Linked DNA regions of Homo sapiens: region 1 is linked to region 2. Evidence: fine-mapped expression QTL. A gene starts in region 2. The other region holds a variant in brackets. All regions are shown on one strand. Distances are between the middles of the regions.

What was found. PIP is the estimated chance that this variant, and not a neighbour inherited with it, causes the effect. A credible set is the group of variants that fine-mapping cannot tell apart.
Region 1: its variant is the best candidate, but not a certain one, in a credible set for the expression of TBX15 in visceral fat (GTEx, PIP 0.54).

The regions. Positions count from the first base shown.
Region 1 is chr1:119,029,839-119,035,211 of GRCh38, forward strand. It overlaps WARS2 (tryptophanyl tRNA synthetase 2, mitochondrial), which reads right to left. Exons shown (of 6, transcript NM_015836.4): 5 at 4,257-4,375; 6 at 1,378-3,521. The coding sequence ends at 3,073. Among named protein-coding and RNA genes, the nearest start is that of WARS2-IT1, 15 kb to the right of the region's middle. The variant C/T (reference allele first, on the strand shown) is at 2,126.
Region 2 is chr1:118,985,893-118,991,265 of GRCh38, forward strand. It overlaps TBX15 (T-box transcription factor 15), which reads right to left and starts at 2,451. Exons shown (of 8, transcript NM_001330677.2): 1 at 1,699-2,451. The coding sequence starts at 1,903. RefSeq lists enhancers at 1,318-1,851, 1,852-2,384.

The DNA of each region.
Region 1 (5,373 bases), 44 kb after region 2:
CTGTGTTGAGTGACCAGCTGTCAAAGTCGGTTTGAAGCAGGGTTTCAGAGCACCAGTTACAGGACCATTATTATTACCACCTGAAATATTTTTCACCATTTCAACTTCCCACAAAACATACAGAAAAAAAAAAATTAGGTTTCTCTCCAATGTGTCATCTCCATTAGAAAGATTGTGAAGGGCCTATAAACAATAAGTGGAAGGGATGTGAAAATAGATCTAGATTCCATACTTGTTGGCTCTTTTATCAACTTCCTGAGATCACTGGGTGTGATGGATTTTTTTTTTTTTTTTTTGAGACGGAGTCTCGCTCTGTTGCCCAGGCTGGGGTGTAGTGGTTTGATCTCGGCTCACTGCAAGCTCCACCTCCTGGGTTCACACCATTCTTCTGCCTCAGCCTCCCTAGTAGCTGGGACTACAGGCGCCCCCCACCACACTCAGCTAATTTTTTTTTTTTGTATTTTAAGTAGAGACGGGGTTTTCACCATGTTAGCCAGGATGGTCTCCATCTCCTGACCTCGTGATCCGCCCGCCTCGGTCTCCCAAAGTGCTGGGATTACAGGCGTGAGCCACCGTGCCCGGCCGTGATGGATAATTTTATGTGTCAACTTGACTGAGTTAAGGGATATCCAGATAGCTGGTAAAGCATTACTCTGAGCGCGTGTGTGAGGGTGTTTCTGGAAGAGATTGGCCTTTGAATCAGTAGACTCAATAAAGGAGATACGCCCTCATCGATGTGGGCTGACATCCAATCAGTTGAGGGACTGACTAGAAGAAAAAGACAGAGGAAGGGCAAATTTGCTGTCTTCTTGAGCTGGAACTTCACCTCTCCTGCCCTAGGACATCACAGCTCCTGGTTCTCAGGCCTTTAGACTCTGGGACTTACAGTGGCCCCCAGGTTCTCAAGCCTTCAGCCTTGGACTGACAGTTACATCATTGGTTCCCCTGGTTCTCCAGCCTAAGGACTTGGACTGTATCACACCATCATCTCTCTTGGGTCCAGCTTGCACATAGCCTATCATGGAACTTCTCAGCCTTCATAATTGGGTGAGCTAATCCCCATAATAAATTCTCTAATATATAGATATATATCCTATTGGTTTTGTTTCTCTGAAGAATCCTGATTAATACTGATTAACCGGATAAGATTCTCTTAATAATTATGGGCCAAGTTTGGACTTGAACAGTTGGGTCACTTAAAAAAAATAACAACAGGTTGCAAACAAGTCCACCCTCACCAATGCATAGACTTCGGTCCCTGGAAGTTATCACAAGTTATCTGTTTTTCTCCTCTGAGATTCTTTCCATAGTGCCTTAATTTTTTGGAGGAAAGGTATTGCAAGGGGGTAAAAACCACACAAACAGATAAACAGACAATTGGCTTGATAGATCTACCTTTAGTTTTGTCATTTTCCAGTATTCACAATCCTTTCAAAGTTTCCTTTAAAGGGGAAAAAACAGAGGCTTGTAAGAAATATGCTCAAAGAGGTTCTAGGACTTACAGACATCCCATTCCAGTATAAGATACAAAAGGCAAAATGTTTCCTTTACCCATGATCCAGGCTAGCTCCAAGAATCCTAAAAACGATGTTTTAATTTGGAATCTGGGATGGGGCGTTTTGTGGATTAACATGTGTTCTGACACAAGGACTACTCTACTTCCTTAAGAAACATGAGCAAAAATGCTTTGCTCAACAACCTAGTTATGTATGTACAAATGGTGATCATGGTCCTTACTGATAAAAAACTTATAAGCAATTTCTGTTACAAAATCGATCTTGCTAACAGGTCTTGGTGTATAAGTTAGGATTATCATTTTCATTTTCAGGTGTCAGAAATGGAAGTGCAGAAAAGCTAGGTTTCAGGGTGACATTACTTAACTGAGGTAGAGGCAAGATGAGAAGCTGTCAGTCATTGGGAATATCTGATTTGTCAGTCTTCACTGCTATTGTAGACTGGCAGAACCTATTTCAAAGTATTTCTGCAATGAGCGTAGAGGAGAGAACTTGGGACCCGCCTTGGGGATTTTGATGGGGAAATGTGACCACGGTTCTGTGAATCCAGATTTTAAGTTCGCATCCATTGGCTGAATTGATGATATAAAAAACATCATCAGTCGTTCCAA[C/T]ACCCACCTTCAAAATCAGAATGTTTAGAGTCTAAAAAACGCTGCCTTTCAGCATTTTTTTTGTACTGAATAAACAAGCACTATTCTTAAGAATAAGGGGTAAGGGTTTTACTCTCAGATTTGCTTCTCTTATGGAGTGATATCGTACAAGCTAATTGGATTCTCTCAGCCTCACTTTCCTCATGTGTAAAATGACAATAATTCTCCTAATTCATAGGGGGTTGGTGAGACTAAACTGAAATGAATGCAAGAAAGCACTTATTAAGAATATAATTCAGGGACTTGGGCTCTTGTACAATAAATAAATCAGGTCAAAATAATGCAACCTCCTTAGAAGATCATATCCCATATCTCTGAATTAAAAAACAAATTATTGCTGGAACAGTTGGTGTTATCTCTTGGAAAACAAGTTAAGCAGCTTAAATATATTAAATCAGGCACCGTCTCAGTGACAAACAAACTATAAGAATGGACTTGTTTTTATGAGCTCTGAATACAAATTGGCATCTGATCAAATGGCATCTCAAGGATTATACATCTAAGACCTCTATATATTGCTTTATAAAAGGGTTGAAGTAGATAACGTGTGCATCTGTTACAGTAAGTACTCCAGAGAGAAGCACAAATGATACTCCATTTCCCAAATTACTCCTTACTTCAATCACATTTCTGCAGGCCAAGGAGTGTGCCTCAATAATTGGGGATTCAGACAGCTATGCCTTCTTGATTTATTTTTTGTTGTTGTTGTTCACAGCATTTTGTTGATGGGATTTGGAACACTGTCGTATTTCAAAGCTACAAAGCAATATTCATCAAATAAAGCCAATAATCAGCTATACCAAATTAAATGTCCCAAAACTATAACTTTTTCTTTTTAGGAAAGCTGCCGTTATCAGAATGCATGGAGTGCAAGGCACAAAAGCCTTGCTGTGATTCGTTGAAACTTCCTATAGAAAACCCACCAATTTCTTCACCTCCTGGCACACAGTGTATGCTAATTCTTTGGCTTTTGCTGATCCAATTTGTAAAACCTTCTCTAAATGGTCCTTGTCCAGCTTCAGTTTTTCAATTTCACGCTTAATTGGGGCAAACTTCTCAATCACAGCATCTGCCACGGCCAGCTTGTAGCGAGCAGTGTTCATGCCCGCGCTGCGGCGCACCACTTCCTCCACGGAGAGCCCCGTCACCGCGGCATGCACCGCCACTATGTTGGACACGCCAGCGCGGCCAGCCGGGTCATAGGTGACCTCCGAGGTGAAGTCTGTCACAGCCTTGCGGAATTTCTGCACTATCTCCTCTGGGCTGTCTGTTATTCGGACGGTGGCCAGTTTGTCAGGGTCTGATTTCGACATTTTGGCAGAAGGATCACGTAGGGATTTTACCTTCTTCATGGATGCTAGGTTAAAAACACCAACACACACATACCCAAAACAAAAACAAAACAAACAGATCACCAAGATGTACACACAGACAGTTCCCAACTTGCAATGGTTTGAATTATGATTTTTCAACTTTACAGTGGTGCAAATGTGATATCCATTCAGTAGAAACTGTACTTGAAATACCCACACAACCATTCTGTTTTTCACTTTCAGTATAGTATTCAATAAATTACATGAGATATTCAATACTTTATTATAAAATAGGCTTTGTGTTAGATGATTCTGCCCAATTATAGACTAATGTAAGTGTTCTGAGCACGCTGAAGGTGGGCTAGGCTAAGCTGTGATGTTCAGTAGGTTATGTGTGTTAAATGCATTTTTGATTAACAGTGTTTCCAACTTACAATGGCTTTATCAGGATGTAACCCAATTATAAGTCAAGAAGCATCTGTTCATACTTCATAAATTATATACTACTTTATAAATATTATTTTAAATTTTTGGTCTCTTCCATACTTTTAAAATATTTTTAGTTATCCTTTTCAATAATCCAACATCTTTTTCAGGAATCCAACGTAGTCTACTTTCTAGTCCTACACTAGAGAAAACAATGAGGACTCTAGTTACAGATCCTGAAGCCTGTCTACAAGAAAGCTGAGGTTAGTCCCAAGAAAGTTCCAAGCCTATCTATTGTCCAATCCTCTCTTTAGAATATACCCTGATGTAACAATTATAAGTTTCTTACTTACTGAGAATGGACTCGGGCACTGGAAAGAACTCCCCATACTTCTTGTTGAAACCTTGTGCTAGATCCTGAACTAGTTCCATGTGCTGGACTTGATCCTCCCCAACAGGAACGTGTGTGGACCTTTAATAAAAGACAGACAGAAAAACAACAGCAAGGCTCTTTCTTAGAGACAGAAATGATATTGCAAGCAGCTGCATTTCCTGTGAATATTTCACTGTTGGTATTCAACAAATGTTCACCAACTATAGAGGGAATGTTTAGACCTAAGTCTTTATCTATGGATCAGACAAAAGCCAAAGAGATGTTTCTCTACTCTAGTTGTGTTTTTTCCACAGCAGGGGAATACAGCCATCAACACCAGCATGACAGGATCTTGCTGGGAGGGAGGAATGGGATTTTAAATAGCATATGCTCTAGGCACAATTGTGTTTTAAAACTACTCCTCATTCCCTCACCCAGTCAGCACATATTATTCCCAGCCCTGACCAGATGCTCTTTACCTCAGAACTACAGCTCATACTTGAAAGACACCCCACCCCACTCTTCAAATCAAAGGCAGCAGAAAGTTCTTCAGGCAAGAGTTTTTCCTCCCTGTCACATAGGGAGTAATTCAATATTCTTTGGAGTAAGCTTCATTTTCAAGTACATTGCAATCACAGGACAATTAATATGTTGCAGAGAACTTAAAATCTATAAGTACAATGTAGATGGCTATCAAAAACTATGTGGGATGAAAAAAGCAAGTTGGAGAAAACATGAAATACACTGACATTTACGTAAATTTTACAAGTGCCTATGGAAATATATCTGTAATAATAAGTAAAAAAACATACTGGAAGCTCCTCCCCAAATTTGTAATTGTAGCTGCTTCTAGAGAAGGTGGAAAGGAAATAGATCTGAAGAAAAGAACAAAGGAGACTTGAATTTTATCTGTAATATTTCATATTATGAAGAAATGAAGATGTGAAACCAAAAATATCAGAATATAGGGAATGACTTCATCATGAGTTTAATCCCATATGTAAAGTTTGCAGTGTCAGATCATGACATAGTACATCAAATAAGGGAAGAATGAACCATTATAGAGAAGTCTTGATGAGGAAAATTTTATACTGAAG
Region 2 (5,373 bases):
TCTGCCTCCTGAATGGAGCTCAGGCTAAGGAGAACGGCAGAAAGAGCAAACTCTGATCTGAATCTCTAATTATGACCCCATGTATTACCCATTTGAACATAAGGCCCTAGACGGGCTCCGTGCGATCTGGGGCCTCCCAAGAGAAAACTTCCCCGGGACAGGACGTCTGCCACGCGCAGCTAAACAACTTCTGTTTTTTCCGCCGTGGGGAAAATAAAAGAACCTTACAAATTCTAAGGCGTCATAACCCCTGCAAGAACTTCTAACTGTATGAAGGCCCACGCGAGATTTTGACAATAGATAAATGAGCTGAGGAAATAGGGTCTGGCCAGCGAAGGGAAACACACAGTAGCCCTGGGTGCCTTTCTGGAATGCCCACGCAGGGGTCCGCGTGGACAAGCACTTGCATTCAAATACAGGAAAAGGCTTGGACGGTCGAAATAAATCTCCTTTTAATTTTCTTTTCATCGACTAATAAAAATAATTCCCCAGCACTAAACTCAAATACCGTAACGGGCCACAAAAACACGGAGAATTCATAAAACTCTATCTCTGCAGGTCACCCGCTAATCGCATTATTATTAGCCTCGGGAGCATGGAAATTGAACTGTCACTGCCTAAAGAGAAAATGTAAGCGACAGCTGTCCCTCCTCTGAGTTGGACAGCTTTGTGGCTGAGATCCCCAAGCTCCTGAGCCCCAGACCGTCTCTATCCCAGTGCAGGCCGCTGCCCCCTCCCCGGGCTTGTCAGCGTGTGAAGCGGGGTCTACTCCCCAGCTCTGGCTGTTCAGCAGGAGCACCTTCCAGCATGGTTTTAGAAGTCCGGGCTGGAAAGCTTCTGAAACCGCTAAACCAAGTTGCGAGCGTTGTATGTGCGCGCGCGCACACTCAAGATTCTTCCGACAACAGCTGTTCCCCCGGGCTGTTTTTGCACAGTTGAAATCTTGGCACTTAACACAAAACGTTAAAGTTGGCTTCTCCCCTCCTAGGGTTCTGTTAAAATACAGACATGACATCCCCCCTGCTTTTTACATGTTCCGTGCACATAATATACATGGGTTACTGTAGGATCTGAGACACAAATCAATCGTACCCACACCCTAAATACACAGAGATGTGGGCCCTGAAGAGTGACCCAAGGAGTAAGGGGTCTAACATCCATTCTTGTTTCCGTAAACGCCAAAGGAGTAGAAATATAATTATGTTCCACCATCGAAAAGTTGGTGGGAGAAAGGCAAGGACGAGGTTGAAGGCTAAATGAGACAACTGGTCATTCCCCGAAGACTGAGGTATTGGATTGGAGAACGCCGCGCCAGTCCTCCCGAGTTCTCAGAAGCGAGTCCTAGATCTCGGCTCCCGCCGTTGCCTTCGGCCCGCGCCCCTCCCAATCCCAGGGACCGGCAGCCCTTCATCCACGGACACCCAGAAAGCTGCGCTCTCCACCCAAAAGAAAAAGAAATGCAAACAAACAGGACTCCTTGCTTAGGCTGGCGACGAAAATGCAAGGCTCAGTCCAGCCCCAAAAATTGGTTCCGGTGAATTTAGGGAGGCTCAGGGCATTTGCGCGAAGAAACAGAAACCTATGTTGGGGCAAGGCAGGGCGTCAATGGCAGGGCCTAGCTCCTCACCCGCGACCGGCGACTGGCCCTTCGGCGTCCCCTCTCCGCCCGCCTCCCGCGGTCGGCTGCGACGCACTCACCCGGGTGAGGCTCCAGGCCGTGTGCCGCCGCGTCCTCCGTGTCTCCGAGTGGGCCCGCGGGGCTCAGCGCCTCCATAGACAGGTCCAGCCCCTTCTCCTCCCAGTCTCGCAGTTTCCGTTTTTTATTTGAGCCGATCAAGGCTTCAACGGAGAAGGCATGTGCTCGCGAGCTCAGGGCGACTGCAGATCTTCTCCTTTCACTCATTTTAGCCGCCCACACCCCTGCCTCCGCTTGCCCCCGCTACCGAGGGAGCAGCCGGCGCCCTCAAGCTCTGAGCGCCCACCGGGCCCGGCCCGGGAGAGGCGGAGGCGCGTCGGACGAGGCTGAGACTGCGGCTCGCGGGTCTCTCCACCCTCCCCCTGCGTCCTCCTCCGCCCTCCTCTGCCGGATCCGACCTGCGCCCCTACGCTGGCCCAGCTGCTAGGAACTAGCGCCCCGAGCGCCGCCCGCTCGCTGCATGAGCGCCCGAGTCCTGCTTCCCACCCACCGGGGCAGGCGCTCACAGACTGTGTCCACTGAACTTCATCTTGTTTTTGTTATTATTATTATTCTCTCTCCTCTCTCTCTCTCTCTCTCTCTCCCCTCCCTCTCTTTTTCTCTCCTCCCCCTCTCTCTCTCTTCCTCTCTGCCTTCCCGTCCTCCCTGTGATCCAAACTTCTGGGAAACTTTTTTTTCCGCTAAATTCCTCCCTTCCCGAGGAACAGGGGGCAGGCGGTGCGCTCCTGTCCGAGGGGTGAGGGAGAGGGAGGGGGAGGAAGAAAAAGACTGAGGGGGAAAAAAGCCAGCCCCCAACCAATAGCGAGGAGGGAACAAGAGAAACTCCGAGAGCGCGAACCAATGAGAGGAAGGGAGAGACTGAGGCCCGGGCCAAAGCGCAGCGCCAGTCGTCCCCTGGATGCTCCTGGGCCGACTTTAACCCCTGGCTTCCCGGTTTCCCCATGGGTTACTCCAAGAGGGAGGTAGGACAGTTGAAAGTTGAGGTCTGATCTGCGCCTTTACAAACTCCTGCAAATCCCAAATCCATACGTTTTTCTTCCAGATCTGCTGGTCTCATAGACGCTGCAAGTCCAGAGTCACTTTAGTTGCAGATCTGGAATTTTGGGGCTCTGACAAAATGTTAACCTGTCCAAAATGCCAGAAAACGATTCTGATAATTTCGCGTCAGCCCCTAGGTGCTTTAGAATATTCTGGTTCCTCCTGGATTTCGCCACACAGGTTTTAATGTTCCTACTGAACGTTTTCTAAGCAAATCTGGGTAAGGCAAAAGGAAACAAACAAACAAGCAAACAGAAAGCCCTGTTACTAACCAGGGTCTTGTAACTGAAAATTCAAAGACCGCTTCCTCCTTCCAGCTCTACCTGGTGGAGAAGGAGACACAGGCGCCTTGAGAGCAAGGGGCGGGCGGCGGAGCGCGGGGTTTAGGGCGAGCTCCTCAGGCGTATTCCAGCTGGGCCCCCTCACGCCGCAAATACTCTCTTTCCCTACGGCCCGAACGCTGGGCTGCGCTTCGCCTGTTCCGGGCTCTTGTTGCAGAGAACCTATGGAGAGGTGACAGGCAAGAACAGCTAGGAACTTTAACAGAAGAGAAGGAGCTTTTTCAAAATTCCCTGCAAATCCCGTTACCTCAAGACCATGGCTTTCCCGGCCAGCTGATCTCCCCCCTGGCCGCCCCCTGCCTTTTGCGATCTCTAAGGACTGCATTCAACATGGATTTCTAAGGAATTAAAAAATCCAACGCTCCTGGCCATTCTTAATTCCCACACCTCTTCCCAAGTTACGCCACCGGTCGAGGACGGCAGGAGACCCCCGAGTGCAGAGAAAGCTCAAACCGGCAGCGAAGTCGGTCCTAGCCAAGCTGAAAAAACGTCTCGGATTTCGCGGACAGCGGCCTAGACACAGCCCGATCTTCCAGTCCTAGTGCCCTGGTCGAGACGGTTCTATCCTTTTGCAAAGAAGCCGGAAAGAGCTGGGTCCCGGGGGCGGGGGACAGACTGAGAGGCCAAGCAGGCCAGTCGTGACGACAGCCAGGCCCTTAGAAGTCTCCAAACCTGAAAGTTTAGGTTAGGGGGCCCACAGCCTGTTAAGATTTCTTGTTGTTGTTTTCGCGAGGCCCGGGAGAATCAGCTCTCCCACCTTGCGGCAAGAAAAGATGACTTGTCAGGCCTCTGAAACGCCGAATTCTCTGCCGGACTGCGGAGGGGCCCAGGGAAATCTAGTCTTTATTATTACAGTTGGAAGTGTTCTGGTGCTGAAGGCAACCACAGTGTTGTGAATTCACCTTGGGCCTCTTTGGACAAGAGGCTACTTTTGCCCCCTTCCTTCACCCCCGCCCCAAATTAGGATCCAACCAGGATGTCAGGAAGCTAGCATCCCAGGCGAATGCAAAAAGAACAATGGAAAAGCCACCGGATGAGTGTGATTCAGCCAAGCCTGACCTCCCCGGAGCCTGTGTCTCAGGCTTGGAGGTCCCCAGGGAGCACGAACATGAACTCTGGGGAGCTGGAAGCAGGGTACTGGTCCCCGCCTCCTGCAGCTCTGCCCAGAGGACTTGGGGAGCCCGGATGGAGAGGCGCAGGATCTCCCACTTCAGTCAGCATTTGGCGTTGCTTCCAGGAGTCGTCGCTGAAAGTCAGCGCGCATTCACTGCTACCGGGCTTCAGCAGAGAAGCTGGAGACAAGGCAGACGGGAACCCGCAATTTCCTTCCCCAGCGGCTGGGGCCTCTCTCTCACCTCCCAACTCTGGTGTCGCCCGGCGTTTTCCGCCTGCGGCTGGAGCCTGCCCCTACCAAGCTTGGTGGGGTAGCAATGGGGCCGGCCTCTAGACTTTCCCAGCTCTTTTCTCATCCCCATAGCCGGTATCTCCCATCTCTCTCTGGCAGCCTTTTGCCTTTCACAGTTTCTCACAGGCCTGGTTTGGACTGAGAAGCGGGTACACCATATGCCTCACCCTCTCTGAGACCATGGAATTTTCTCAAAAAGGAGGACTTAGCCTGGGCAACATGGAGAAACCCCATTTCTACAAAAAATACAAAAATTAGCCAGGTGTGGTGGTGTGGGCCTGTAGTCCCAGCTACTCAGGAGGCTGACAGGGGAGGATCACCTGAGCCCAGGAGGTCCAGGCTGAAGTGAGCCGAGATTGCACCACTACACTCCAGACTCGGTGACAGAGTGAGAACCTGTCTTCTCAAAAATAGAAAAAAAGGAAAAAAAAAAAAAAAAGGAGGACTTTTTGGTTATCTAGGAACATAATTGCAAGTCCAGAGGCCCGATTGTTCCTGTGTGTCCAAAGACGCAGCATCTGAGAGGCATACATAGAGGAATGAGCAATGGTTTCAACAGCATGCATCTGCATCCTCTCCGAAGCTTGCACTCCGCAGAGTCAGGAGTCAGCCAGAAGAGTTTCCACACCCCTCCTTCAGATTGCACATAGGCTGCTCCCACCCCCATTCCACAGACACACATATCCTGGAATTGTAGGTTAGGCCACTAAAACCAACCGAACCCAAATGAAAGCAGGATGGTTTTTAACAGTCTTGAAAATAAGGGGTTTCCTCTAAGTAAATGGGAGGAGCAGTGAAAACTCCCGTGACTCTATAGGAGTTAATGTAAGGTTTTTCCCAGAAGCATGCACTCCTTGGTGGGTGACTGCTGATGGGAAGGAAAATCTGGAGAA